Homo sapiens: one gene and its partners. The protein of the gene in region 4 interacts with the protein of the main gene of each other region in a pairwise test. Each region holds a gene or a part of one and is shown on either strand. Other genes may lie near its edges.

Region 1 (7,525 bases), 830 kb from region 4:
CACAGGACAACTTCAAACAGTGAAGACAAAACAATGTGCAGCAGGCACACGCAGACACAACACATACCAACTGACCCCGCAAGGAACAAAAACAAACTTCTAAAACCATCTCGCATACAGGCAGAGTGAATGTACCTTTTTGGGATTCATGCAGCTGCAATTTCTCCTGGTGATCCCAGCCAAGGGCACATTTGTCTTGTCTGTCTGTCTGCACACCAAATTTTCCTCCAAACCCTTTCACATAGTCTACATGCACAATGAAAGGCCAGAACCCATCATTAACAGGTAGTGCAGGTCACAGGTGGAAAGTATGTTTTCAATACAGTTAAACGCATATGATTCACTCAATCTACTCTTCCCTTCCGGATCTTTGGTAATACTTTAGATAACATCCATGAAGAGGCCCTCCTTGGAGAGTGGCAGGAAATAACCTAGTCTATGACCTCAGCATCGTGACTAAGCCAGACAGGACCCCATGGAAGCTCCCACGCATGCGGCTTCCACCCGCACCATGAGACAGCACAGGCTCACACGGGCAACACAGACGTGCGGGGTGTGGCCACCACGATAAGCAACGCCGCTGGGGCTGGAGCGCCATAACACTCAAGCTGCGAGTTCCTATTTAGCAGCTGTGTTTCTGGATGTGCCGTTTTCAAGTTGGGCATTTCATGAAAAAGAGACATCTACGTTAAGGGCTATCAATAACGCTTTGTTTTTCCTTTTCCGGTGTGGCTACCACCTGTCACATTACTAGCTGCTGGCTGGAGGGTAAGATAAAACGGAAGACACCTTTCTGGGACTCGTGCTTCTCCGTTTTGCCTTGATACTCAAAGCCAACGGCGCTCTTATCCACTTTGTCCTTGTCGATACCGTATTTGCCGCCGAAACCTTTGGAGTAATCTAAAAACAAACAAAAAAGGACTACTTTAAAAGGAGCAACGAAATCAGTGAACATGCAAGTATTTTATCCTTTGATTAAAAAAACAAAAATCTTTCAGGTCCACTGTAGGACCACTGAATAATACAGACAGTATTTAAAGGTGCTATTTATGTGTAATAACAGAAACACAAACAGTGGTAACCAGAGGTGGGGGTGTGTGCCTGCAGCCCAGCTACTCAGGAGGCTGAGAAGGGAGGATCACTTGAGCCCAGGAGGCGGAGTCCAGCCTGAGCAACATAGCAAGACCCCATCTCTAAGTTAAATCATTAGCTAATATTTTAAAAATTCAAAAAACAGGCTGGGGGAGGGGGCTCACGCCTGTAATCACAGCACTTTGGGAGGTCGAGGTGGGTGGATCACCTGAGGTCAGGGGTTTAAGTCCAGCCTGACCAACATTATGAAACCCCATCTCTACTAAAAATACAAAATTAGCTGGGCGTGGTGGCCCACACCTGTAATCCCAGCTACTCGGGAGGCTGAGGCAGAAGAATCACTGGAACCCAGGAGGTGAAGGTTGCAGTGAGCCGAGATTGCGCCACTGCACTCCAGCCTGAGCAACAAGAGTGAAACTCCATCTCAAAAAAAAAAAAAGAATTAAGAAAAAAAGTTTTTTTTTTTAAAGTACAGCAGAGGCTGGACACAGTGGCTCACACCTGTAATCCCAGCACTTTGGGAGGCCAAGGTGGGCGGATCATGAGGTCAAGAGATCAAGACCATCCTGGGCAACATGGTGAAACCCCGCCTCTACTAAAAATACAAAAATTAGCTGGGCTTGGTGGTGCATGCCTGTAATCCCGGCTACTCAGGAGACTGAGGCAGGAGAATTGTTTGAACCCGGAAGGAGGAGGTTGCACTGAGCTGAGATCGCACCACTGCACTCCAGCCTGGCGAGAGAGAGAGACTCCGTCTCAAAAAAAAAAAAAAAAGAAATAAAGTACAGCAGATGAATTCCTGTAACATCATCCATTGCATCCAGAAGCTAGCAGGAGATGAGAGTTTATGATAAGGCTCTAAGCTCAGGAGGCAGCAGAAGGGCAAGGCTTTCAAAGGCCACTCTTCACAAACTGAAGCACGCAGGGGGATGCCAGGAAATAGGACACACACAGCATCCTCCAGAAACTTCAGTTCTACTCAGAATGAAGCCATTTAGCATGTCACTGTGACACCAAAACATGACTCTCTCATGGACCCACTAACAGCACAAGGCAGAGGATCAAGGCCTGGGAGAGAAGGCCTGAAGCATCCAAGGAGCCTTGCGTCTGCCCAGGTGCTCGGCCTGTGCTCCCTGGCTCCCTGGAGTCACACACTCATGCAGCTTCGCGGAGCATGCGCTGCTCACAACTGTGTGGTGTCGGGAAGAGGAGGAATGGACTGTTCCCAGGAAAGAGGCAGAGAGCAGAGGCAAGCAGCTCTGTGCGGCAGGCAAGGCCTGACCGGCAGGAAGGCAAGGCCAGGCCAGGCCGCGACAAACTACAAGCCAAGCTGCCCTCCAGGCCACCGGCACTTTCCTCAGGGAAATGCCAAGCCAGCATGGTCGGATCTTCCAGTGGTGTTTCTTGCTTTGGGGTAATTTTTTTTTTTTTTGAGTTTTTAAATAGTCAAGCTCTCACTTTTCAAATGTTGGCAAATATTTTTAAAAATTTAAATGTGCAGGCCAAACAAGAGGCACAGGGAAACAGGCAGGCCACAGCCTCTGCAGCCCTGGGAAACGCTCTGAGTGATGGTGTACAGGCTATGCAGTGGGGAAGGAAGAACTCAGCACAGCCTCCAAGGACAACTTGGCAGTATCTATGGAAATTTTACATTCAATAGCCTTCGACCCAGCAATTCCATGTCTAGGAGTTGATTCTTTTGAATAATCACTTGTGAACAAAACACAGGTACAAGAATGTTCCCTGCAGTCAAGTTTCAGCTGGGCGCAGTGGCTCACACCTGTAATCCCAGCACTTTGGGAGGCCAAGGCAGGGCGATCACCTGAGGTCAGGAATTCAAGACCAGCCTGGGCAACATGGCAGAACTCCGTCTCTACTAAAAATACAAAAATTAGCTGGGCGTGGTGGCGTGTGCTTGTAATCCCGGCTAGCCGGGAGGCTGAAGCACGAGAATTGCTTGAACCAGGGAGGTGGAGGTTGCAGTGAGCAGAGATCACGCCACTACACTCCAGCCTGGGCAACGGAGCGAGACTCCGTCTAAAAGAAAAAAAAAAAAAATTTACAGGTCACACCTGTAATCCCAGCACTTAAGGAAACCAAGGTGGGGGAGGATTGCTTGAGACCACGGAGATCAAGACCAGTCCGGGCAACACGGCAAGACCTCATCTCTACCAAAAATAAATAAATAAATAAATAAATAACCTAAATTCCACATTCAAAAAAGGAATGGTTACATGGACTATGGAATCCTCATACGATGGGGAACTGTGCAGCCATTCGAATTAGGAAAAGCCCACATACACTGGTACGAAAAGAACACCAAACATTTTCAGTTAAAAAATCTACAACAATCACGTGTGCAGAGAGAAAATGCCCTCGTGGGTGTTTCTGGAGCAAACGCGTGATTACAGACCGTGGGGTCCGCCCCACCTCTCTGTGACTCGTGCTTCTCCGTCTTGCCCTGGTAGTCGAAGCCCACCGCGCTCTTGTCTACTCGGTCGGCCTGCACGCCATACTTGCCGCCAAAACCACTGGAGTAGTCTGGAGAGACAGGGCAGCAATTAGCACGGGGGCCTGAGGACGAACTACACTGTTCCTTTTGTTAAACTAAGCAAAAGTGTGTAGGGGTTACAACTCACAAACACATCAAGCGCACATTTTAAAATGTACAACAAGCCACCCACTGCTCCATACAGGTGACGCTGGACCCTGTTTCACAACAGGTGCATGGGGGGGTTCTGGGCCCTGTCAGCTGTTACAGGGCAGTTCCTTTGTGTAGTCAGAAATGACGCTGCATGCCCACTTTGAAAATCAACTGCTCAGGTAAAAGCTGGAAAGCTTCATACAAAGAACCAGCACTTTGGAGGCTGAGGTGGGCGGATCACTTGAGGCCAGGAGTTTGAGACCAGCCTGGCCAACGTGGCAAAACCCCATCTTTACTAAAAAATAGAAAAACTAGCCAGGGGTAGTGGCACACACCTGTAATCCCAGCTACTTGGGAGGCTGAGGCAGGAGAATCGTTTGAACCCAGGAGGCGCAGGTTGCAGTGAGCCGAGATCGTGCCACTGCACTCCAGCCTGGGCAACAGAGCGAGACTCTGTCTCAAAACAAACAAACAAACAAAACAAAATGAAAAAAATGGAAAGAGAAAGCCTCATATGAAGAAAGCCATGCAGCTGAACATGGGAGACAAGACCCTGATCCTCCGCCTGCCCACACCACAGCTACCTCCACCTAGACTGCACCGAGACTGCGTAAGGACTGAGAGCTTGTTCCGCGGATGATGCAATGACACAAAGGAGGAAGAACTAAATAAGCTTGCAAAAAATAAACTGAGAACTTTAAGGTGGCGATATGCTTTGGTCTTTCAAAAAAGAGACTGCATGATGTAATCAAGATTAATCACCAGCAGTTAAGACCGTATGTGTATAAGGAAAACAAGAATTTAACAACTCTGGTTTCTAGCCTTGGGGGGAAGTTAGCTTTCTGCCGATCAATCTGTGAGCTCTCTTTTCCAGGAGGAGCGCTGCCCAGATGAAGGGAAGGCGGCTTCCGCTACAAGGGGGAGAAGCCCCACAATGACAGCAGATGCCAGGGCTCCGAGGGGGATGTGTAACGGGGAATACATCCATCATGTGGTATCCAGATGATCCAGAAACATGAAGAGGAGGGCAGAGTCCTCCTTGTGGCAACAGCCACCGCTCAGGAAACGGCTTCAGGTGGCTGTGACTCTCCCCATCAGGGCCCCCGGAGCGCGGGGAAACGGCTTCAGGTGGCTGTGACTCTCCCCATCGGGGCCCCCGGAGCGGGCTCTTTCTGCACCTTTCGCGTCTTACCTTTCTGGGAGGCATGCTTCTCAGTCTTCCCCTGGTATTCAAAGCCTACAGCAGACTGTGACGACCAAAAACACATGAAAAAGTGGGGAGAAATACTTTCCAATGTCCCTGAAACAATCTCTCTGAATTCATGACATGACATTTAAAAAAATATGAAACACATGATGCTGTGACCTCTGGGTTCCTAAGCCAGGTGCAGGTGGCAGTGACGCAAGAGCTCTGGCATCCTAAACGGACAGGCCCACTGCAAGGCCCAGTGGGCGGCGCAGGCCAAGCCATATCCCTGGTGACCTGCCCTCCCCAGCATGCGGCAGCAGGGAATGCTCAGCTGATTCATTCCACGGGCTTCACAAAAACTCGCTTCTCAAATAAGTCATGCTGAGAACATTAGTATTAGTAATGAGAATAGCAGTGGCCACCAGGGGTGCACTCCCACCAGCCAGGCACTGCGATGGGCATCTGAGCAAACACCCGTGAGATAGGTATGATCATCCTCCTTTCACAGACACATAAATTCAGAACCGTGGCTAATATGTCACAAAGCCACAATCTGCGACCAGCATCAGCTCCCTGCTCCCTCCAGGCTCCTGATCGCTCCTCTATTAAACAAAAGAGCCAACAGACCCGAGCCGAAGAGAATCAAAGAGGCTCGGGCCTAGGATGACTGCAACAACACCTGGACGCAAAGCCTGGGTCCTGGACACGAGCGCATCCTGCCCCCCCGGTATAGGCTCTGATGTCACTCTGTCACAGTAACACACATGTGAGAAACACGGGTGGAAACGGTCCCTGCTGGCACATTGGGACAGACACAGGGCCATCCAGTACTGAGGCACGTAGTGAAGAGCGACCGCAGGGACTGCTACAGCAAGCCCGCCGCATCCTGCTTCCTCTCTCTGAGAGCCCAGGCTCTCAGAGCATCCTGGGAGGCAGATGCCCCTCTCTGCAGTCCCCCAGAGCTGGAGGGCACCTGCCTGCTACTACAAGTGGCCCAACAGGGCTCAGATCTACGGGGAACGCCCCCCTTGCCCCAACCTGCCCCAGTCCCAGTGCCACATCACTCACCTGATCAACTCTGTCCATCTGGACACCAAACTTGCCTCCGAAGCCACGGACCGAGTCCACCTGCGAGCAGTGCTTGGAAAGTTTCGACTGATATTCGTGGCCGACAGCTGACTGGAACAGGGTTCAAACACAAAGCATTAGACACCAACAACACTGCGGCGCTTCACTTCCTCCCAGAGCAGGGCTGGGGGAGGCCACATCCTGGTCAGTGCAGGGAAACCTTACATTAACACACCCATCTGGGGAGCCAAGGAAGGCGACACGACTCCTGGGAGGCCCGGGTCCTTGGTGCAGGCTTTTTTTTTTTTGAGACAGAGTCTTGCTCTGTTGCCCAGGCTGGAGTGCAGTGGCGGGGTCTCGGCTCACTGCAAGCTCCGCCTCCCAGGTTCACGCCATTCTCCTGCCTCAGCCTCCCGAGTAGCTGGGACTATAGGCACCCGCCACCATGCCTGGCTAATTTTTTGTATTTTTAGTAGAGACGGGGTTTCACCGTGTTAGCCAGGATGGTCTCCATCTCCTGACCTTGTGATCCACCCGCCTCGGCCTCCCAAAGTGCTGGGATTACAGGCGTGAGACACCGCGCCCAGCCCTTGGTGCAGGCTTTCACGGCCCACCCCAGCCCTTGGGCTCCTGGAAGCTGCACACGAACCCTGGACACAGGTCGGGGCCACCAGTGGGGATTTCTGACACGACCGGGCATGAAGAAGGTACACAGAGCTGGCAGCCTGTGGCAGGATCCGTGAGACCCGCTGGTGTGGAGACTGCTGGCATCTACTGAAGTGGGACCTCTGTGAATCACATGACCAAAGAATCGGCACAAAAAATAGTCTGCCAGCAAACTATTTTGTTCTAATAGACTATAAACAAAAATAGTCTGCAAGACACAGGCTCACACTGGATTTCCGCTGAGCAGCACCCTGTTCAGGCAGGAGCCAGCTGCCGGCTCCCATGCCAGCTCATTTCAGCATCATTAATGTCGTCAGCCCCCATCAGCGCACACAGGTTTGGGGACCTTCTGTTCGCCAAAGCCAGCAGGTAAAGCCCAAGGTTCCCCTGGGCTTTCCAGACCCGGCACCCAGCTCTTCTGTAAATAACGCCTCTGGGACACAGCCACAGCCATTCACAGGTGTGCTGTCCACAGCTGCTTGTGTGATTCAGCAACTCCGTTCGGCAGTTCTATTGAGAGACCCTCTGGTCCACAAAGTGGAAAAGATCTCCTACCTCAAAGCACTGGCCCTGCTCCAGTCCTGACACCGAGGCCCCAGGGTTCTGAGGCTCCCTCCTCACAGCAGAGCCGGGTCAAGGACTCCTTCACAGACAGTGCGGGCACATGGCCCAGCAGAGGGCGTGGAGAAAGTCCACGGCACATCGGGACCCCTCTTCTCACTCCCTCTAGCATGTGGAGCCACTCATGCTAACCTGCTAACCCAAGCAGCATCCCACACCGGTGCTGACGCAGCAGGCAACTCAGAGAGTGTCCACTATTTCCCCTATTGAAAAAGCAGGTCTTGCCCTAAGCCTTGGGCCTGTGC
Region 2 (7,525 bases), on a different chromosome or scaffold from region 4:
TATATGTCTGTTCAGATTTTCTATTTTTTCCTGAGTCAGCTTTGGTAGTTTGTGTGTTTCTTGGAATTGATGTTTTTCTTCTAGGTTTTTTAATTTATTGGCATACAGTTGTTCATAGTATTTGTTTATAATCCTTTTTAAAATATCTGTAAGGTCTGTAGAAATGTTATTTCTGATTTTATTTATTTGAGTGTCTCTCTTGTTGGTCTAGCTAAAGAGTTTTCAATTTTACTGATATTTTCAAATAACCACATTTTGGTTTTGTTGATTTCCTCTGTTTTTCTGTTCTCTTTTGTGTATATCTCTGCTCTGATTTTTATTATTTCCTTCTTTTTGCTTTGAGTTTAGTTTTTCTTTTCCAGTTCCTTAAGATTAAATTTAAGTTGGTAATTCGAGATCTTTCTTCTTTTTTATGCAAGCTTTTAGGGCTATAAATTTCCCTCTGAGCATTGCCTTTGCTGCCTCCCATAGGTTTTTGTATGTTGTGTTTTCATTTTCATTTGTCTCACAGTAGTGTCTAATCTTGTGAAATTTCTTGGTGACCTATTGGTTTAAGAGAGTGTTAGTTGCCACACACTTGTTAATTTTCCAGTTTTCCTTTCTGTTATTGATTTCTAGGTTCATTCCATTGTGGTCAGAAAAGATACTTTGTATGACTTCAATCTCAAATTTATTGAGGCCTTTTTTTTTTTTTTTTTTTTTTTAAAATAGAGACAGGGTCTCTCTTTGTTACCTAGGCTGGAGTGCAGTAGCATGATCATGGCTCACTGTAGCCTTTGAACTCCTGGGTTCAAGCAATCCTCCCAACTCAGCCTCCTGAGTAGCTGGAACTACAGGAATGCACCACCACACCTGGCTAATTATTTTATTTTACTTTTTATTTTTGTAGAGACAAGGTCTCACCATCTTGCCCAGGCTGCCGTCAGACTCCTGGGCTCAAGTGATCCCCCGACCTTGGACTCCCAAAGTGTTGGAATTACAGGCTTGAGCCACTGTGCCTGGCCTATTGAGCCTTGTTTTGTGTCCTAATATATGGTCTATCTTGCAGAATATTCCATGTATACTTGAGAAAAATGTGTGATATATTCTGCTTTTGTTTGATGGGATATTCTCTATATGTCTATTAGGTCTAGTTGGTTTATAGTACTGCTCAAGGCCTCTATTTCCTTAATGATTTTTCATTTAGTTCTGTCCCTTACAGAAAGTGGGGTATTGATGTCTCCAAGTATATTGAACTATTTTTCTCCCTCAATTCTGTCATTTTTTGCTTTATATGCCTTGAGGCTCTCTTGTTAGGTATGCATATATTTGTAACTGTTACACTTCTTGATGGACTGATTCTTTTATCAATATATGCTGTCCTTTGTCTTTAAGTCTGTGTTGTGTGATATATATTTATTTATTTTTAGACAGTCTCGCTCTGTTGCCCAGGCTGGAGTGCAGTGGCGTGACCTCGGCTCACTGCAACCTCCGCCTCCCAGGTTCAAGCGATTCTTCTGTCTCAGCCTCCTGAGTAGCTGGGATTACAGGCACCTGACATCATGCCTAACTAATTTTTGTATTTTTGGTAGAGACGGAGTTTCACCATGTTGGCCAGGCTAGTCTTGAACTCCTGAGCTCAAGTGATCCACCCGCCTCGGCTTCCTAAAGTGCAGGGATTACAGGCATGAGACACCGCGCCGGGCCTATGCTGTGTGATATTTATATAGCCACCCCACTCTCTCAGTTATCCTTTACATGGGATATCTTCTTCCATCCTTTCATTTTCAAACCTATTTGCATCTTTGTTTGGATCTAAAGTGAGTGTCTTGCAGATAACAGTTGCATCATGTTATTTTTAATCTATTTACATTTAAAGTTATATCTGATAAGGAAGGATTTCTGCTATTTTGCTGTTTTCATTTACTTTTTTTTCTTTCAATTCTTCTATTACTGTCTTCTTTTGTGATTTCTTTTTCTTTTTTTTTTTTTTTTTTGGAGGGTGGGGGTCAGGGTCTCACTCTGTCACCCAGGCTGGAGTGCAGTGGTGGAATCTCTGCTCACTGCAACCTCTGCCTCCCAGGTTCAAGCGACACTTATATGTCAGCCTCTCGAGTAGCTGGGACTACAGGTGCATGCCACGATGCCTGGCTAATTTTTTGGTATTTTTTTGGTAGAGACGAGGTCTCAGCATGTTGGCCAGGCTGATCTTGAACTTCTGACCTCAAGTGATCCGCCCACCTTGGCCTCCCAAAGTGCTGGGATTACAGGTGTGAGCCTCTGTGACTGGACTATTTTCTCTAATATATTGTTTTATTACCCTTCTTGTTTCTCTTTCTGTATTTTTGTTTTTCCTTAGTGGTTACCCTGGGGATTAACATCTTAGGTTTTTAACAATCATGTTTGAATTAATACCAACTTAGTTTCAGTACTATGCATAACTCTGCTCCTTTGCAGCTCCATCTTTGTATATTACATCTTTACACATTAAAATATATGCCCATTAACCTAGAATTGAAATTTTTGTTTTATGCATTTGTATTTTAAATTGTGTAGGAAAGAAAAGGAGAATTTACAAAAAAAAACTGCAATACTACTGACTTTTATATTTACTTATGTAGCTACCTTTACCATTGTTCTTTATTTCTTCATATGACTTCAAATTACTGTCCAGTGTTTTTTCATTTTAGCCTGGAGGATTCTCTTTAGCACTTCTTTTTTGAGACAGTCTTGCTCTGTCTCCCAGGCTGGAGTACAGTGGTGCGGTCTTGGCTCACTACAACCTCCACCTCCCGGGTTCAAGCAATTCTCCTGCCTCAGCTTCCCGAGTAGCTGGGACTACAAGCGTGTGCCACCACGCCCGGCTAATTTTTTGTATTTTTAGTAGAGACGGGGTTTCACCATGTTGGCCAGGCTGGTTTCGATCTCCTGACCTCGTGATCCACCCACCGCTGTCTCCCAAAGTGCTGGGATTACAGGTGTGAGCCCCTGTGCCCAGCCTCTCTTTAGCATTTCTTAGCACAGGTCTGGTAGTGATGAATTCCTTTAGTTTTTGTTTATCTGGGAATGTCTTATGTTCTCCTTCATTTTTGAAGGACAGTTTTGCTAAATATAGAATTCTTTGTTGGCTCTTTTGCTTTCAGCATCAGATCAGATTCTATCCCCTCCCCAGGGCTTATTACTGCTGCTTATTGTGAGTGGTTGTTGTTTGCTTGTTTAGTGACTTTACTAAACTACTTTTATAAGCTCTATATTCCTGGTCATGTGGGGCCGCTGAAGTCTATTCCATTTGCTTAGTAATCAGCTAGGGTTTTAACAGAGTTTCGTTAAACACCTGGAGCCAAAAGAAAAAACAAACAAACAAAAGAAAACCTCTCCCCATCTTTACAGATGGCTTTATGTTGGGGCAGTTTTTGACCACTTAGTGATGCCATTTATAATTCTGCCTTAGCCTTTGCTTACTGTTTGCTCAAAGCCTGAAGATCAGCCAGGGTGAAAGCTTAGGGTCTTCTTGGGCCTTTCCTGAATGTGCATCCAGCCCTGGCCATGTGCACGTCCTTCTTGATTGGTATACACACCCCTTATTACCCCATGTATATTCTTTCCCATCCCCTTTCTGTCCAGGCTTTTCCATCTGTCTGTTCCTTGTCCCAGTTGTTGTCCCTTGCCCCAGGCTGCTGCATCCATTAAATGATTTTTGCAAAAACCACCCAGGAAGACTCCCTATGCCTGGGAATGATTCAAGTCAGGCAAAGCCAAGGCAAGCCATTGCTCAGGTCCTTCAGGGAGCTGCCAGACAAGTTGAAACCCACAATCACAATTGTTTAAGAATGAGATCTGTATTGCTTCCTCTGGCATTAGGAGTGCAGGTTACTGTCCACACAGCCATCACTGACTTGGGGTGTGGGGGATGGTGGGCAGGCAACTTAGGATGCGATAGCACTCTCTTTACCACAAAGCAGCAACTTCTTTCTTTACCAAGCCTTGCCCTAGATTTTATAAGTTTTTTTTTTTTACTAGATTCCAGAGTTCTGCAAAAGTTGAGTCTGACAGTATTTACCAGCTCATTAATTGCATTCATTGCTTTTTGCAGGGACAGTGCCTTGGAGTTCCTTACTCTACTATTTTTGGTGGTATCACCCCAAATGTAGGGATTTCTCTGAAGGCTATCATTAACCGGAAGTAAGAAAATTAGGAAGGAAGAAGTTGATTTAGGGGTATAGACTGGATTATTTTTATTTGGACATGAGTGTTGGGTTTGAGGTACTGATGGCACAATCTGTGGGTGTCTAGTGACAGTTGGAATTGTAATGCCTGAATTCCAGAAAGGTCTTAGAGCTGCAAAGAGATCTGGGAACCTTCTGCACAGAAATTATAGAAAATGAAAGTGTATGATTTCCTTGGAATAGAGAGGAAGGTCAAGTATGTCATCTTGTGAAACACTTTCAGCTAAGGAATTCTTCATTTATTCATTCAGCATGTTTGCTGACTGCTGAATACATAATTTTGTTTTTCCTTTGTTCCTACTACTGATGTATGTACTGCTAAGCGTTGGAGACAGAAACGAATAAGATCTCGTTTTCTGCCCTCAGGAAGTTCACTCATATTGAGGAAGACAGACAAGTAAACAAGTACAATGCAGTGTTATAATAACAAGGTTAGAGGAGCCTAGACAGAGGTAAACAAGAATATGTAAACAGGTTGGGAGGGAAAATAAGAAATTCGGGGAAGTCAAAGAAGAAGAAAACATAATGGAGAGAGTGGGCTGTGATCTTGGTTGCTGCATATAGAGTTTGAGAAGGCTGAGGACTTTAAAAGTTACTGATTTGACAGTAAGGAGAGATGACATAAGAATGGTATTCATAAGAATGGTTTTAATTGAGTAGTTTTGTTAGAATGTTGGAGACAAAGGATCAGATAATAAAGAGTTGGGAGTGTGAGTGGTGAAAAAGTCGAGGGAAAAGGAAAAACAACCTTTTTTTTTTTTTTTTTTTTTTTTTGAGACAGAGTCTTGCCCTGTCGCCAGGCTGGAGTATAGTGACGTGATCTTGGCTCACTGCAACCTCCGCCTGCCAGGTTCAAACGATTCTCCTGCCTCAGCCTCCTGAGTAGCTGGGACTACAGGTGCACACCACTGCACCCAGCTAATTTTTGTATTTTTAGTAGAGACGGGGTTTCACCATGTTTGGCCAGGATGGTCTCGATCTCTTGAGCTTGTGATCTGCCCGCCTCAGCCTCCCAGAATGCTGGGATTACTGGCATGAGCCACCGTGCCCAGCCGGGAAAGACAACTTTTAAAAGAGTGGTATAGTTTATTCTATAGGAAAATTGGACCAGTTAGAGAAAAAATAAATAAATTACCAAAATGTTACGGTTTAAAAGTTGTAGCAGAGTTAAAGTAACTTCATTTTGGAGTAGAAAAGATATGAGTGTGTTTTTAGACAATTGAAGGGACTAAATAGGAAGGAAAACAAGGATGTCGAGAGTCCCAAGAGAGTCAGGAAAGATAGTATTAAGATCCTAGAAGGATCAGGATTTGGAGACTTGAGTGAAGAACGAGAGTGAGGATAATGAGAGTTTTGAGACAAAAGGAATTTGAGAAGTTTTACCTAGGGAAGCCTCAGTTTTCTAGGTAAAGTAGAGCATAAAATCACACGCTAAGAAATGGGCAGCAGTGAAAATGCCTGACTGAAGTTGATGTAGCGTACATTTGTATTGATAGTACCATTTGGTGATTTTCTCATTTCTTTCAACACATATGTGTTAAGCATTTACTGTGTACTAAGCACTATACAAGATCCTTGGGATTCTATCTGTAAACAAACAAAACTCCCTGTCCTTTTGGAGGTTACATATGACTGGGGTAAGGGGAGAAAAACAAATAATATTTTAAAATAAACATATGAGGTAAATAGAGCTACCTGGGTCTGGGAACCAAGAAAGCAAATGGGAAGATTAGCCAGACATAACTGCAATTTTATATTGCATATCATATTCTGATTTAAGATAGAAATAATTTTATTTTTATACAGCTCATTGTAGAATCTAGCTTGCTTAAACTAAGACAAGAAGAGTATGGGTGTGGTGGAGCCTTTGTGTACTTAGATTGTAGCTATGAAAGAAATCTATATTTACATTTAAGAGGGAATTCATTAATTTAGGACAACTTTATAATTATGTTATATAGTTATTTCAGGGCCTTTGACAAGAGAAAAGATGGTGAACTGTCATATAATAACAAATTAAATATTTATTTGGTTAAGAAAAAGAAAATTTGCATCTTATTTCCAAAAAGATGATTTTTAACTACATAGAAATTTGTTATATTTAAAAGCTTTAAAGATCTATATAGAGTTGAAGATCTCTTTTTAATAATGAATAAGTTCATTCTTTTGGTAATCATTTTTTTATATTCTCCTCTCATGGCCCTTTTTAATTTCAACAGGCATTGGAAAAGTGAAAAGAAAACCTAGTGTGCCAGATTCTGCATCTCCTGCTGATGATAGTTTTGTTGACCCAGGGGAACGTCTCTATGACCTCAACATGCCCGCTTATGTGAAATTTAACTACATGGCTGAGAGAGAGGATGAATTATCATTGATAAAGGGGACAAAGGTGATCGTCATGGAGAAATGCAGTGATGGGTGGTGGCGTGGTAGCTACAATGGACAAGTTGGATGGTTCCCTTCAAACTATGTAACTGAAGAAGGTGACAGTCCTTTGGGTGACCATGTGGGTTCTCTGTCAGAGAAATTAGCAGCAGTCGTCAATAACCTAAATACTGGGCAAGTGTTGCATGTGGTACAGGCTCTTTACCCATTCAGCTCATCTAATGATGAAGAACTTAATTTCGAGAAAGGAGATGTAATGGATGTTATTGAAAAACCTGAAAATGACCCAGAGTGGTGGAAATGCAGGAAGATCAATGGTATGGTTGGTCTAGTACCAAAAAACTATGTTACCGTTATGCAGAATAATCCATTAACTTCAGGTTTGGAACCATCACCTCCACAGTGTGATTACATTAGGCCTTCACTCACTGGAAAGTTTGCTGGCAATCCTTGGTATTATGGCAAAGTCACCAGGCATCAAGCAGAAATGGCATTAAATGAAAGAGGACATGAAGGGGATTTCCTCATTCGTGATAGTGAATCTTCGGTAAGTTGATTTTCGGAGGTAAATACAAATAGAGCTCTGGGTATTTTAAAAAAAAGAGAGAGAGAAATGGAGAGGTTAAGTGGCTTCCCTAAAGTTAACCAGGTAACAAGCTGGGACGTAACATAAGCATAAATGTTCCAAAGCTAAAGTCCGCATTCTTTCTAGCTATCTATTTTGAATAAAAGAGAGCTGTGGCAGTGTTGCTACACACTGAATTATTTCGTCTTGTCTAGTTCTGTTGATTTTGCATTCCTGATATATTTTCTGTTTCTGTTGCATTAAACTAAATGGAGAAAATGGAACACTGGCCTCTTCATTGAGAGTAGAATAATACTATAGATTAAACTGGGAAACATTTAAAAAATTGCTATTGGATGCAATGTGTAAG
Region 3 (7,525 bases), on a different chromosome or scaffold from region 4:
TGAAGAGGGTGAGGGTGGCGGAAGAAAACAGCTAACTGCCTTGATGAGGCAGGCGGGCTCAGAAGGGAGGTAGTAGTGGAACCAGCTGGCTGGGGCTTGACCCCTGTGGCTGGGGAGCAGACCACACCAGGAGGCCTGCTCCGAGGGCTAGGCCCACAGCACGGGAGAGGGCAAGGCCCAGGCCGGTGTCATCAAGGGTTTTCTTTGTACTGGCTGTTACTCCCAGTGGGAGAGGGGCAGGAGCACATGTCCGGATCTCCAGAGCTAGCCATCCCTGCCTGTGTATTTCCTGTCTGATGTAGTTTTTTCCAAGGGAAGTCAGACCTTTTAGTGTTTCCTCAGCACCCCAGGCTTGCCCCGATGTGTGGGTTTCCAGGCCCCCCCGCCCAGCTGGGATCCTCTGTTTCCTGTGAACCTAGGAAAAGGGCCTGCTTCACAGATAACTGGAGGAGCTGAGCACACCCAGTCCTGGGACCCACAACACCTCCAGCTTCTCTCCAGACTCTTGTGTGTGTGTGTACACAGATGCACAGGATTCAGTTGGAGTTTAGAGATCTTGGCTACCAGCTTTGCTCTGGGTAGCTTCTTGGAATGAGGCACATTTATTAATATTTGCAATAAGTATTATTATACCTCCCCATTTGCCCAGTGCTAGGCACCAAGGATTCAAAAGTTTATTGAGACATGGTTTGTGCCATTGATGAACTCTTGGAAAAGACAGATGTAGAGGCATATGATTATAACCCTGTGTGTTACATACCATAATATAAAGGCCTCTACCAAGAACTGTGAGGAGCTCTGCCAGGAAGGCATTAAAGGAGAGGTGACCTTTGAGGTAGGCCTTGAATTACTGAGGCACCTGTCTGTGCCGAGGCTAAGGAACTGGGAATCACTCTGTGCAGGGGTAGGGAACAGATATGGTGTGGTAGAGAGGAAGCTGGGACTGGTTGGAGACAGCTATAGCCCTAGTGTGCCATGTCCAGCAGATTACACTCAGTCCTGGAGGCGACGGGAGTCAGCGGAGGCTGTTGTGGGACTGACTTGCCTCTGCCTGGGAGACCACAGTGGCAGTGGTTTGTCAGGCAGGTGTTGGGGAGGGAGGCCAGTGAGCTCCTACGGTTTGCACAGTTTGCAGGAGAGAGCTGCTGAGGGCCCAGACAAGACCTTCTTGCTGAGGCAGGGTGGGGATGCCATGGTGGTAGATGGGAGAAGGGCTGGGTCTTGAGGGGTGAGACAGAGCTTAGTAGTTAAGCATTTGGGCCCTAGACTCTGCTTGAATTAAAATCCTGTTGTGCAGCTTACTTGCTCTGTGACCTTAAAGCATATGACTACCTCTCTGGGCTGCTTATCTGTAAAAAGGATAGTATTAAATGGCATTTATTTTATAAGGTTTTTGTGAGGATTTGATGAGAACCTGTATAAAGTGCTTAGCACCTGTATAAAGTGCTTAGCATGGAGTGTGGCACAGTGTAAGTGCTTACTACGTAGGATCCCTGACAGGACAGAGATGAGGATTAAGTTCTCAGGAGGACCTGGTGGGGAGGAGTTCGAATGCACCTGCTGTCCTAAGGGGCTGGTGCCTGGCCACCAAGCCCTTTGATTCAGAGGCAAGGAGGCCCGCCCATCCTCTCTTGCAGCTCTCAGCAGTCCCTCTATTGTCAGGGCTCTTTCCCACTGCTGGTTTTGCAGGGAGACAGGGCAGTTGGCTGGAAGCAGCTGCTTTGGGTGGTAACCCCTTCTGTAGAGTGAAGGTATGATATTGTCCTATTTCTAAGTGCCTAGCCCAGGACGCTATCTGGAGAGATCTTGTCTTTGAGGAAGTGCTCTAATGCCACAGCCTCGATGTGGTAGGGCCTGCCTCTGCTGTCACTGTTCTGTGTCAGTCTCCGTTAACTCACAGCATCTCTTCTTACTCTGTGCCTTTTCCTGTGGGATGTGGCTTCAAGGAGACCACAGATGATAAGTTGGAGGAAGGGAGTGAGGCCTGAGATTGCAAAGGTGTGATATTAGGAGACTGATTTTTCCCCCTTTCCACTTGCTTTGTTAGAACTAGAGAAGTCACTGCAGACTGTGAGGAGAGTCCTAGGAGAGATGGGTGTGGGATAGGAGGATGGGAATGTTCTGGTGCCCCTTGTAGAGTGCCTTGTTGAGAGGAGCATGGGAACAGTGCGTCCTTGGAGGGAATCTCTGAGAGCAGCATGTTTACAGGTGGCAAGACTCAAGGTGGAGCCACGGGTGAGGAGTGGCTTCAGGCTACCATTGACCAGATAGTCCCACCTTGCTGGTAATTGAGCTGAAGTGCCTGGAGATTTGTGGCTAGAGCTGGTCAGATTTGGGTTCAGGTCTCAGCTCTTACTGTGACCTTGGGCAGATTACTTTTCCCTGTCTGAAATTGATCTTTAGCTGTAAAAGTAATTTCTCCTCACAGAGCTGTATATTAATAATAAGGGAGATTATATATAAGAGTAAGAGATTTTATGTGAAAACTACCCAGCACAACATTTGTCACTTAGTGGCCACTTAACAGTATTCATTTCCTTTACTCTCACCTTTGTTAACCACAGAGCTCCAATCTTTTCCACCACTAAGCTCGGCCACAAGTGGCTGCTCCAACAACCTGGGCTAGGAGTCTGTTTCCTACTTGCTTTCTGTGTTCCTTCCCTGAGTCTGTACACAGAGGACTGGGGCATCAAAAAACTCTGGAATTGGAATAGCATATTGGGAGTTCATGGAACATTTTCTCACCTGTTGTATTGTTTGAACTTCACAGCAGCTCCATGAATCCATGGAGGGCAGGAGTTACTATCCCTCTCTTACAGAGGAGAAAACCAAGCCCTAAGGGTAAGGTCACATAGCAAGTTCATGGCAGATCCTAGGATTTCAGATTCCTGCTATAGTATTCAGTTTATTCTCCCATTCTGGGGAAAATGATAATAGGATGGACCGTTCTATAGGAACAGAGGGTTATTTTGTTTTGTTTTGTTTTTCTTCCCTCTGGCCACATGTGTTTGACCAGCCTAGACTTCCATCTGTGGACAAGCTGGACTCATTGCCTCAATTTCAAAACCCGTCCTGCACTCATCCTTGCCACAACACCGGTGTCGAGATGCTTGGCCCACCCAGACCTTTCCCACACTCCTACATGGGGGTGAATGTAGCCGCTGATTGGGGGTGGGACACAGAAGAGCCTCACCCTCTTGACTTTCTGGTTTGTGGTGACACTTCCGCCTAAGCTTCTACAGAACATGGGAACCTGGGGCTCCATGCCCCAAATATCCTGAGAAGGGCTTTTCCAGGATTCTCTATGACAACTCAAGAGCATGCATTCATTCATGTGCTCTTTAATTTGTCATACATTTGTTGTGGGCCTTGCTACTGTGTGTTGGGCACACTGAGCTGGATGTGATTACTCCAGCCTCTGACTTGTTCATGGTGGCAGTAGATCTCTAGCGTGGTTTGTGTTCCATCTCACCATACCTACTCTCCTTAAAAAAAAACAAAAAACTAGCTTTCTTGGGCCTCAGTGGCTCATTGAATAAGTGAGAGACGACTTGTGCTTCCCTGGCTTTAGACTCTGGCATTTGCTAACTGTGCCAAGCACTGTGGAGACCAGTAGTGGACATAAGGTTAGGGTAGATACAGCCAGAAAGGAGATAAATAGGCAGACAGATAAAATTCTTATAGGATTTGGTGAGTTCTATGAAGGAAATAAGGCAAGAGGCTGCTCTGTCAGGGTAGGTGAGGGTGTGCTGTGATAACAAATGATGCCCACATATCAATGGCTGGCAACAAGGAAGGTTAATTTCCCCTGTTTGCTATGTGTGCTAACCTACACCACCGTCCCTGGAGAGTGGCCTCAGTGGTTCTGGGTGAGGCCTCTAGTACAGAACCTGAACACCCTGGGCAAACTAGGCTGGAGAGGGATTTGGAGTATGGAGGTTTAGAAGGAATTAATTTCTATGACTTAGGATGCATGTGGTGAGTGTGGCTTTGCTGTTGTGGTAGAGTAGAGTGCTGCCTGTGTGGGTCAAGAGACTGTCTTGGCTGACATCTTTGAAATAGGTATATTTGTGTGGCCCTTGCCTAATTGTCATCTCTGCCATAGCTGCCCCCGCCTTCCCCACCAACCCATGGCCCTACTTGAGCTGCCTGCTGAGCCTACTCTGTTGTGGCCACAGTATCCTCCTGCTGCCCAGAGTTTGAGTTTCTCGCTACTTCTGCCACTCATCACACTTGCTTCCCAGAGCTTTGCTGGGTGTGCTGAAGTCTCCAGAGAAAGTGGGGAATATGGGTGCCTAGAGACTTCTAGGGGGTGTTTTCAGCCCCTAGAGAGTAGAGAAGTGTGAGAAGGGGTTGGTCCCCGAATATTCTGTAGTTTTGGGGAAGAAGCAATGGGGACAGTGGAGTTGGTTGCCTTAAGAGAGGCTATGGTCCCAAGAGATGGGACTTGGAGAGTCTCTACTTGCATTCCTGGCTAAGCCCTTAATATTCTCGCACCCCTCCTTGCAAGACTAGTTCCTTTTGAGGTGGTTCTTGGCTAGCTTTTGAGAGGCTGCAGTGGCTGTGTGCCCAGGCTTAAGTCCTAGCTTTCTCCCCACTCTTTACCTCCTAGGAACCGGGCCCATCCTGGGGGAGGCAGGGAGGAGCTCCTTTTTATAGTCCACATGTAGGCTTTGTGTATAGGCTCTGCTGCTTCCTTCCGGCCCTGGCCCTTCCTGGTGTTGGCCGGTGGCCCTGGCTTCAGCAAGACTCAGGATGCAGAGTAAACGGGGCAGGGCGTTCTCCTACAGAAGACTGGCATCCCTTTTTACTGAGCCCAGGCCTGGCACAGAGGAGGCTGGAGTTAGGAAGCAAGAAAACGAGGTGACCCAGTCCTTGATCCTGAGAAGCTTGTGATCTGGACCATGCAGAAAACCGCTAATGCCCAGGGCTGGCAGGAGACAGCTGTGCCTAAAGTGCTGTAGGCTGGGCCTGAGGGCCAAGATGGAATCGCTTTTCTCCCTGTAGCAGCCCATCCTACCCCCTGGGGTCCCTCCACCTGCCAGCTGGCACACAGGTGTTGGGTAAAGCATCTGTACAAAGGCTGTGAGGGGCCTGGGCGCAAGGCAGCAAGGCTTGGGTACGGAGGAGAGTGGGTGGTCTTACTGATGTTCTGGGCCCTGACAGTGAACAGCTGGCCAAACTGGTGAGGAGTTGGGCCATGGCGAGTTTGGCCACTTGTTTGTGTGTGTTTAGTTCTTCCTGGGCACAGGTGGGGAGTTCACTTTGGGGTTGGCTTCCTGTTTTCTTGGACACCTGGGGATATGGTTGAGTTAAAATGTTCTGAGGGAAATGATTGTTGAGGGCATGGGCTTGGGTCATAGTGTCCTTGGCTTGGCCTTGCCCATGGTAGGAGTCGGGTATTGACCACACTGGGTTCTGGCTGTGTAGGTGTGGATGTGTGGTGGGAGAATTCCAACCCCACCTTGACTTCAGCCTAAGGCCCAGAGAGTGTGGGCCTGAGTTCACAGGGTGACTAACCCTAGGAAGGAGTGAAGGAGAGCTCCAGTTGGCCATAGGTCCCACAGGTTTCTCAGCTTACTTGGGGGCAGGAGGTGAGCTAAGGAATACAACTCCATTCCCTCAGTTGGGAGGTTGGGCAGCGATGGGGGCAGGGGTGATGGTCCTTCTCTGAGGCACTGAAGACCCACTTTATGGTCACCCTATTCTGCCTGATAGTCCACCACCTGTTTGGAGGCAGCTCCCCTCTTCCTGCCCTAGTCACTTCCTCCACCTTCAACAGTAATTGAGTATAATGTGCCTGTGTTAGCTTGTCCATCCTAACTGGGACTGTGGCCTTTTCTTGGGCGTTCTTAGCATATCTACCAAGGAGGTTGGAAAAGGTAACATATGTCACTTTGTTAAGGATTTTGCTGAGGGCCTTTTGAGGCCAGCAGTGAAACACAGAGCATTCCCTCCAGTGAGAACAGAATGTCTGTTGCCAGACTGATCACAAGAGGATGGCCTGGTTCTGGCCTGAGAACTGGTCTACACCGGAAGCATGAAGCTCCATACAATCATGTGTGCTAGTAAAGTTTGGGCAAGCAGCTGTCCTAAGCAGGTAAAACGATAGGTTATTCAACTTCAACTTCAGAGAAAGAAATCCAAGGTAGCCATCTCTCTCAGTAGGGGAGGTGAGTTCAAAGAATTTAAGCTGGGCTGGGCACGGTGGCTCACGCCTGTAATCCCAGCACTTTGGGAGGCCAAGGTAGGGGGATCACGAGGTCAGGAGTTCAAGACCAGCCTGGCTAAGATGGTGAAATCCCATCTCTACTAAAAATACAAAAATTAACCAGGCGTGGTGTCAGGCGCCTGTAACCCAGCTACTCAGGAAGCTGAGGCAGGATAATTGCTTGAACCCGGGAGGCAGAGGTTGCAGTGAGCCAAGATCGCGCCATTGCACTCCAGCCTGGGTGACAGAGCAAGACTCTGTCTCTTTAAAAAAAAAAAAAAATTTAAGCTGGGCTTTCTGGGCAGGCAGTGAGTGAATGAGATCCCTGGCACCTTGGAGTGAGATCAGAGTCTAGATCACTCACTGGGGCCCTGTTTCCCAGGAAGCAAAAAGGGAACAGGAGAGTGGCTTGGCTTGGGCTGGCATGGCGCAAAGGGAGTGCAGCCAGATGCTGTGGCGGCTGGGTCAAGTAGCTCTAAAACAGGAGAGCCTAGTGGGTTCTGCTGAAGCAGGATGTCTCAGCAAGCAGGCCTCTGACCTGACGACTTCCGGTCATTATTTAGAACGTCTCCAGCCCCACAGATTTACTCTGTTGGAGGCTTAAGGACTAAACCAACATTTACTGTCCAAGAGGTGGCAGTAACACAGAAACCAAAGAGGCAGGAACCAAGGTTGGGGTGGTGAGATGTCATGGGGTTCAGGGAGTGGCAGAGGGGAAGGCCTCTATTCTCCCTTTCCCACTTGTCTCCCTACCTCAGCCCCTGTTGCTCTGACGCTTCCCCCACCACTATGAGTCCTAGGCCCCTGTTGTTTCCTTGTAGGAGGGAGACCCCAGATTTTTATTTCTTCTCCCAACCCATTCCATTTCCTCTCCCTTGTGAGAGGGCTCTGCAGAGACAGGGCAGCAGAGAGAGACTTGGAGATATGCTGGGCTGTGGTCAGGAGGGCCTCATTTATCTAGTGAGCAGGAACAGGTTATATAGCAGTGATGCTTTCATAGTATTTTTCTTGAATAAGGTCCCCAAAACCTTATTAAGTTCCTGGTAGGCATGGAGCATTGAAGATGGCAGACATGGTGCAGTCTCTCAAGGAGTTTACGCTCTAGTGGAGAAAACAATCAGACAGCCTTAAAATACATGTATGGCTACTATAATAAATACTGTGAAGCAGGAGTGCACCACGAAACCTGGAGTCCTCTCCATCCTCCCCTTCTGTCTGTGCTGGCCCTGCTTGGCCACTTCCAACAAGGATTCTGAGGCATTACAGAGCACACGTCTAGGGTACAGGCAGTCTTGGCTTTGAAGTATTGTTGGC
Region 4 (7,525 bases):
GGCATTAGTGCCACACTCTTGCTATTTATTCCCTCAGTAAATCTCAGAAGTCCAATGAGCCAGCTCCGATTCATTACGATTCCCATTTCACAGATCAGAAGCTTGAAGCTCAGAGGAGTGAAGCCGCTTGCCTTAGCCCACACAGCTAGTGGGTAGGGGAGCCCTTGACCCCACACCGCCCGGTGGTTAAATGCACGCTGCCCAGCTGGAGAAAGCCGCCAGGCAGCGGTTAGAAAATTAGTCTTCTGGTTCCCGTGCTGTGAAATCGCGCTGCGGTCAGCAGGTGAAAACCAGTTTCTCATCATACTTCTTGATGTGCCCCACGTTTTCCATTGTTGAAGGCAGATTCAAGGACTGGTTTGATGCCGCTGATGGACGGCTGTCTCCTTGGCCATGGCGCCAGTACTGATGCTGGGCTTTGGGGTACAGTCGCCTCTGATGCAAGCCTTCCCTGCATTCTAGGGTTTCTGTTCTTTGCAGGGCGGGGGACAATGGGCCCATGCCCACTACCCAGAGCCTGCCCTGGGTTTAGGGACCATAGCCTGGGTCTCTCTGGATGCACATATGCCGGGGATGGGCCTTCAGGGAGGGACTGGCTGAAACGCAGCTCGCTCCCTGGGAGATTAAGTTCTTAAAAGCCTGTGGGGCTGCCAGGAGTTTGCTGGCAGCAGCAGGGACATGCTGGGCTCCCCGATTGGCTGCCAGATGTCATTGCCAAACCCGGCACTGCACCAGAGCACGACTGGGGACAGTGTTTTAAAATTGTCCTTGCTGGGTATGGTAGCGACTCTGGGGTTAGCTCAGTGAGGGGCGTGTGAATGGAATTAGGCCACAAACTCCCAATCTGAGGCTGCAGATTCCAAATGGTGGAATGCAGAAGGGCTCCTGGCTCCCCGTCCCAGAAATTCTGCTGCAGCAGAAAGGCAGCACGGGAGCTCCCCCAGAGGGAGAGGAAGATCAGCTGGAGCAGCCCTGAGTTGCTGGACTTAGAAAGGCCTCACCAGAGACCCCCCAGGAGGCGTGCATTAGAGGTCATAAGCACTGCAGCTCTGCCATGGCCCTGCTGGGCTGGGGCCTGCCTCTTCCATTTTTTTTTTTTTGTCTGTCCCTGAAAGTGTTGTTTTTTTTAAAAAAAACAGCTTGTTCTCTCATACATTTTCTGCAACAATTTTTTATGAAAAATTCAAATATCCAGCAAAGCTGAAACAATTGCCAGTAAACTCCTTTCAGATTGTGCCATTCATCATTTACCAAGCTTCTCACACATTTTAAAGTCAACGTCTAAAATTTTTCTTTATAGGTTTAAATATTTGTAAAGGCTACGGTACCTCTGTGAGGTAAATATCGATATTTTAAAAGGAACTGTTGCCTGACTCTTTACCCACTGTGATATAAACCCATCGTGACTCACAGCCACTTTTTCTTGACGGATACGTAAGTGAGCTTTAGGACATTTTCATCGTTCTTTTCTTGAATTTATACAGCCACTTCCCCAAAGAATTTTATCCTAATGTAATAGACTTTTATGCTCATGGGTCTTTTATTAATCAACCTAGCATACTTCTCTGCACGAAAAATATACATAAATTGACTTTCATAAAATTTCCCATGACCTGGAGTTGCTAAGTATTTAAAAAAATTACTTCTGAATTGAAAAAGCTGTACAGTCATTGCTGGGGCGCAGTTGGTCAAAAACTATAAATATATTACAGATTTTTAGAAATGGAAAAGGGGAGCTGTTACTGGAGCTGCCTCTCTGAGTGAGAAGGCAGTGGGTGTTTTTGGTGTTTTAATTGAAGCCCTAGTTGCATTAGCCCTTTTGTTTTGGTATCAGGAGGGCCCTTCACCTGGAGCTGCACCACCCCCTCACCAGCTTCCGGGGGATAGCTATGCCTTTCTTATGTAAAAGAGCCTCAGGGATGTTAGGGAGGGGAGGTGGGCAGGGGATCCAAGGCCTTTCTCCACTGAGCAATTTCAGGAAAGACTTGGCTACCCTTTAGACTGAGCTGGGTCTACGTGGAAAGGGTCCTTGCACCTCAGTTTGAAGCCCCCTGCAAGGGAGATCTTAGTTCACAAGATTACACCTGTACTCAAGGTCCTGCAGGTGATTCTTACCTGGGGACAGTGATGATACTTACGTGAAGGCAGTGACATGTGATGCCAGGTGTGTGCTCTGCATACTGCCAGGCTTTGCTGCCTCCCTGCAGACTTGGGGGTGTCCTGCCCCACGTCTTCCTCACTCCGGCTCATCAGTCCCCTCCTCTTCTCAAGGAGAATCCAGAGTCAGCACCTAGAGTCCTCGGTGGGGGTGGGGAATGGCCAAGAGTCTGGACAGCTGGCAGTCTGCTCCCTGGTCCACTGGGGTGGGTCCTGGGAGGCTTAGGGCCCAAGGAATGGGGTGCAGGGCATCCTGGGTTTCCAGACCTGGAGCTGACACAGACTTCCGGGCTCCTGGGAGGTGGGAAATGAGCTTCCAAGCCTGTCTTTCCTGAAAATCCTGCCCTGGATTCCTTCCCTGGGGAGAATGCAGGCTTCCTGGGGAGTGGAGGGGGATGCTTCTGTGGCCTCATTTGTACCCCTGAGAGCATAGGGCTCAGCCGTTCCTGTCCATGTTTTTCCTGCCACCCCGCACAAATGTCCCTGGGATTTGAAGAATCTGCTCCACTCCCCTCTTCCCGTACAGGGGCCTGCAAACTAGAGGCATTTGCCCCTGGGCCAGCCGGGCTCCTGTCTGACCCCTCCTCACGAGGTGGACAGGTCCCCCAGGAAAGGGACCACGCCTTGCTCCTGTCTGCATTTCAAGGTCCTACAGTGGCCCCAAGCATGGACCAGGGGACTTTGGCAGGGGAAGATACTGACCCGATGGCGTCGCTACTGCCCCTCGTCTTGGTTCTGGACTTTCCCTCCCTCGAGGGTCATTCAGCTCCAGTGGCTGAACTTGCCGAAGGTCGTGTGGCCCAGCTGGGATCCACACCTGGCGGCTGCCCACTCCACCGTGCAGAAGAAGGCACCGGTCGCTTCCCCGGCCTCCAGATTGCCTCCTGGGTGGCACACCAGTTTATTTTTCTGTTCACTTTCAGGTAAAGCAGATGAGGTAGCACAGTGGTTGTCAGACTTCTAGCTTAAGGAATCTTTTTTGCTCTCTTAGCATTTTGAAGGACCCAGAAGCTTTTTATGTATGAGCACGAATCTATTGTTATTTACGCTATTAGAATTTACAAATATCTAATTATTAATGCATTTAAAAATAGTAATAAACTCATGACATGTTGGTATAAATAATGTGTTTTTATGGATAACAACTATTTTCAAAATAAGAAAAACACTTGGTGAGGCCGGTCGAGGTGGCTCAGGCCTGTAATCCCAGCACTTTGGGAGGCTGAGGCAGGAGGATTGCTTGAGGCCAGGAATTTGAGACCAGCCTAGGCAATATAATGAGACCCCATCTCTACAAAAAATAAAAAATTAGCCAGGTGTAGTGGCACGCACCTGTGGTCCCAGCTACTCAGGAAGCTGAGGTGGGAGGATTACCTGAGCCTGAGAGGTCGATGTTGCAGTGAGCCGTGATCACGCCACTGTACTCTAGCCTGGGTGACAGAGTGAGGAAAAAAAATAGTGCAGTGGCTCACACCTGTAACCCCAGCACTTTGGGAGGCCGAGACGGGTGGATCACTTGAGGTCAGGAGTTCGAGACCAGCCTGGCCAAAATGGTGAAACCCCATCTCCACTAAAAATACAAAAATTAGCCAGGCACAGTGGGGCACACTTGTAGTCCCAGCTACTCAGAAGGCTAAGGCACAAGAGATCACTTGAACCCGGCAGGCGGAGGTTGCAGTGAGCCAAGATTGCCCCACTGCACTCTAGCCTGGGCAACAGAGTGACAGTCCATCTCAACAACAACAAAAAAACACTTGGTGAGAAGAGTGGCATTGTTTAACATTTTTGTGGTCTTTTTGCTGTGAGGTTTAATGGAAGACAGCTGGGTTCCCGTATCTGCTCCTGCAGTCAGCTTGTTGCAATATCACAAGTTTTGTAGCTTCCGTTGTGCACTTGGGAGAGGATGAGCTTGAAAAAGCAGCTCCCATCTCAGTGTTATGATGAGAATGGTTTGACTTCATAGATCTCTCGAATAGGCTGGTTCCCGGGGCTGCACGCTGAGAGCCTCTGGGAGGAGCGTGTGATCCGCCTTGTCAGTGCATGGGTCCCGTTTGAAAGCTGGCTGTGCCATGTGGTCCAAAGGGTGCTTTGAATGATGCATGTACCTTTTCTTGTCGTTCAGGATATGTCTGTGGAGTTTAGTCAGGGGCTTCAGACAGCCACCAGCTGGTTCCGACCCCAGGGGCAGGCCCTCTGATTGTGGGGTCTAGGATGGTGGGAGCATGCAGAGGCACCTTCCAGGCTGTGGGGTCAAGGAGGCTGGCAGAGCCTAAGGCAGTTTAGGAGACTCTGAGAGAGCAGCCTGGCCAATTTATAGAGTGAGGCAGGCTTGCAAGTGTAGACAGGAGAGTGGAGAGGACTTTGTAGGTGTCTGGCTGCCCAAGGAAGCCTATAGTTTTCTTTTGAAGTCTGGTTTTGGTATCAGAGTAATACTGGCCTCATAAGATGACTTGGGAAGCATTGTCTTCCATTTTTTTCTGAAAAGTTTATGCAAAATTGGCCTTCATTCTTCTTTAAATGTTTGGTAGAATTCACCAATAAAGCCATCTGGGCCTAGGCTTTTCTTTGTGAAAACTTTTAAAATTATTGATTGGATCTCTGCTTGTCATAGGTCTTTTTAGATTTTCTGTTTCTTCTTGAGTCAAGTTTGTTAGTTTGTGTCCCACCAGAAATGTGTCCACTTCATGTGAGTTTCTCTAATGTGGTTGCTATGTAGTTGTTTGTAGCACCGTCTCATTATTATTATTGTTATTATTTTTTTGAGACAGAGTCTTGCTCTGTTGCCTAGGCTGGAGTGCAGTGGCGTGATCTCAGCTCACTGCAAGCTCCGCCTCCCGGGCTTACACCATTCTCTTGACTCAGCCTCCCGAGTAGCTGGCACTACAGGCGCCCACCACCAGGCCCAACTAATTTTTTTGTATTTTTAGTAGAGACGGGGTTTCACCGTGCTAGCCAGGATGGTCTTGATCTCCTGACCTCGTGATCCGCCCGCCTCAGCCTCCCAAAGTTCTGGGATTACAGGCATCAGCCACCACGCCCGGCCTGACTCCTTTTAATTCTGTAAGTTGGTAATAATGTCCCTTCTTTCATTCCTGAGTTTGGTAATTTGAGTCTTCCCTTCTTTTCTTGATCATTTCAGCTCAGGTTTGTAAATTTCGTTGATCTTTTCAAATAACCAACTTGTAGTTTCATTGATTTTCTTTATTGCTTTTCTAGCTTAGATTTCATTAACTTCAGCCCTAACCTTTATTATTTCCTTCCTTCTGCTAGCTCAGTTTCAGTTTCCCGTTCTTTTTCTGACTCTCACAAGGTGGAAGGTTTTGGTTATTGATTTGAGATTTTTCTTCTTTTTAACATAGACATTTACAGATCTGAATTTCCTTTAAGTACTGCTTTAGTTGTATTCCATAAGTTTTGATGTGTTTTGTCTTCTTTTTCACTCGTTTCAAAGTGTTTTCCAATTTCCCCGTGGTTTATTCTCTGACCCATTGGCTATTTAGATGTCTGTTTAATTTCCACATATTTGTGCATTTGTAAAATAAATTTCGAATTTCATTCTATTGTGGTTGGAGAACATTATTTGTATAATTTCAGTCCTGCTGATGTTTAATGAGGCTGTTTTATAGCCGGGCATGAGGCCTCTCCTGGAGAATGTTCCACGTGCCCTTGAGAAGAATGAGTATTCTGCCGTCTTTTGTGGCATGTGCTGCAGGTGTCTGCTAGGCTGCTCTAGACTCTGGGATACAACAGTGAACCAGACAGACAAATATTTCTGCCCTTGTAGGGTCGACATCCTCGCCAGGGGAGCAAACAATAATTAAAGGAGATCATAAATAAGCAGTGATGTAGTGTGGGAGGAAAGGAGAGCTTGCTGGTGGGGGCTGGGAGCCAGGGGGGCTGCTGTTTTAGCAGGATGGTCGGGGTGAGCTGCATTGAGGTAGCGGTCCTTGAGCAAACACTTAAAGGAGGTAAAGGAAGCGGTGTGTGATACAGGAAGAGTTCAGTGGAAATTGAGAGCACTTTTTTTCCCAATGCACATTTTATAAATTGTGCAAAATACCTATAACATAAAAAGTTACCCTTTTCACCATTTTTAGGTGTGTAGTTCTGAGGCATTAAGGATGCTCATCGTGCTCTGCAGCCATCGTCACCATGTATCTGTAGAACTCTTCAGCTTGCAGAACTGAAACTACGTCCCCACTAAACACTAGCAAACCAGCCCCCTTCTCCCAGCCCCTGGCGACCACCAGTCTGTTTTCTGTCTCTTTGACTTCTGTAGGGACCTCATCCAAGTGGAATCATGCAGTGTTTGTCTTTTTGAGTCTGGCTTAATTCACTCAGCATAATGTTCTCAAGCCTCATCCATGTTGTAGCGTGTGTCAGAATTTCCTTCCTTTTTGTGGCTGAGTAATATTCCATTGTGTGGATGGGCCACATTTTGTTTATACATTCATCCATCCTTGAGGACCTGGGTGGCTTCACCCTCTGGCTGTTGTGAATAATGCTACTGCGAACATGGTTGTGCAAGTATCTTGAGTCCTTGCTTTTAGAAAACACCTTCAAAAGCAGCGTCCAGCCCCAGGCCCGTCTGGTCTTGAGATACTAAAGCTGAGATCTTTTACCCACTCGCTCCAGCCTAGGCTGCTTTCTCACAGAAGGAGGCCCCACCTTTCTTCATGGGTCTCAGGAGAAAGTAGGGGTGACCCTGAGTGTGGGAGAAATTGTGGGACATGACTCCTTCCCATGTCTGGTGTCTTCCAGTGAGGCAAGGTGCTGCTCCCTGGGAACCTGGTGGGGGTGTCTCATCTTTGTGGGTTCAGCCCCAGCCTAGAGCTGGATCCCAAGAAAAACAGGGACCAGAGACAGTAGCAGGGGGGAGAGTGTCTCCTGCAAAATGTAGCTGATTAACTGATTAGATGCTTTCCGGTTGCCTCATGATCTTAAACGCAGGCTGATTGTGCAATGGGTCATTTGCTGATCTCATATGCAGTTGCTGGCGAAGGTACGTGTTTGTTTGTCCCATGGGGCCTTGGGTCGCCTGTGTGGGGCAGGGGAAGCGGGGCTTCCGGGCACTTCCCGCTCGCTGGAAGCTTTGCCTTGATGTTTCCTTAATAGTCACTTAAAAAAATCCACCCTGAGTTGATCATGTAGCTCAGTTTATACATTCTATGGAATGGTTAACCGCATTTTATTCTTTCTCTTCCTGTTGACATTTGGGTTGTTTTCAGGATCTTGTTCTTTCAGACTGTGCTGCAGGGAACATTCTTCTATGCAGGGCTGGCGGGGCTTCCCCGGGTACCTCCTTAGAGGAGAAGTTGCCTAGCCCGGGGCTTTCACCGTGCACAGAGCTAGCTTTCACCAGTGTTCT

Evidence for each region.
Region 1: the proteins of SHANK2 (region 4) and CTTN interact in a two-hybrid assay, tested with the Homo sapiens proteins (one study listed by BioGRID).
Region 2: the proteins of SHANK2 (region 4) and NCK1 interact in binary tests that used the Homo sapiens proteins (3 or more experiments, as listed by UniProt).
Region 3: the proteins of SHANK2 (region 4) and PLCG1 interact in binary tests that used the Homo sapiens proteins (3 or more experiments, as listed by UniProt).

Annotation. Positions count from the first base shown.
Region 1 is NC_000011.10:70,413,121-70,420,645, reverse strand, and holds part of CTTN (src substrate cortactin), read right to left. Parts: intron 6,105-7,525; coding exon 5,994-6,104; intron 4,984-5,993; coding exon 4,929-4,983; intron 3,634-4,928; coding exon 3,523-3,633; intron 901-3,522; coding exon 790-900; intron 247-789; coding exon 136-246; intron 1-135.
Region 2 is NC_000003.12:136,939,159-136,946,683, forward strand, and holds part of NCK1 (SH2/SH3 adapter protein NCK1), read left to right. Parts: intron 1-6,424; coding exon 6,425-7,137; exon of another isoform or gene 7,138-7,173; intron 7,174-7,525. UniProt on the Homo sapiens protein: Adapter protein which associates with tyrosine-phosphorylated growth factor receptors, such as KDR and PDGFRB, or their cellular substrates. Maintains low levels of EIF2S1 phosphorylation by promoting its dephosphorylation by PP1.
Region 3 is NC_000020.11:41,141,373-41,148,897, forward strand, and holds part of PLCG1 (1-phosphatidylinositol 4,5-bisphosphate phosphodiesterase gamma-1), read left to right. Parts: intron 1-7,525. UniProt on the Homo sapiens protein: Mediates the production of the second messenger molecules diacylglycerol (DAG) and inositol 1,4,5-trisphosphate (IP3). Plays an important role in the regulation of intracellular signaling cascades.
Region 4 is NC_000011.10:71,241,088-71,248,612, reverse strand, and holds part of SHANK2 (SH3 and multiple ankyrin repeat domains protein 2), read left to right. Parts: intron 1-5,084; exon of another isoform or gene 5,085-5,217; intron 5,218-7,525. UniProt on the Homo sapiens protein: Seems to be an adapter protein in the postsynaptic density (PSD) of excitatory synapses that interconnects receptors of the postsynaptic membrane including NMDA-type and metabotropic glutamate receptors, and the actin-based cytoskeleton.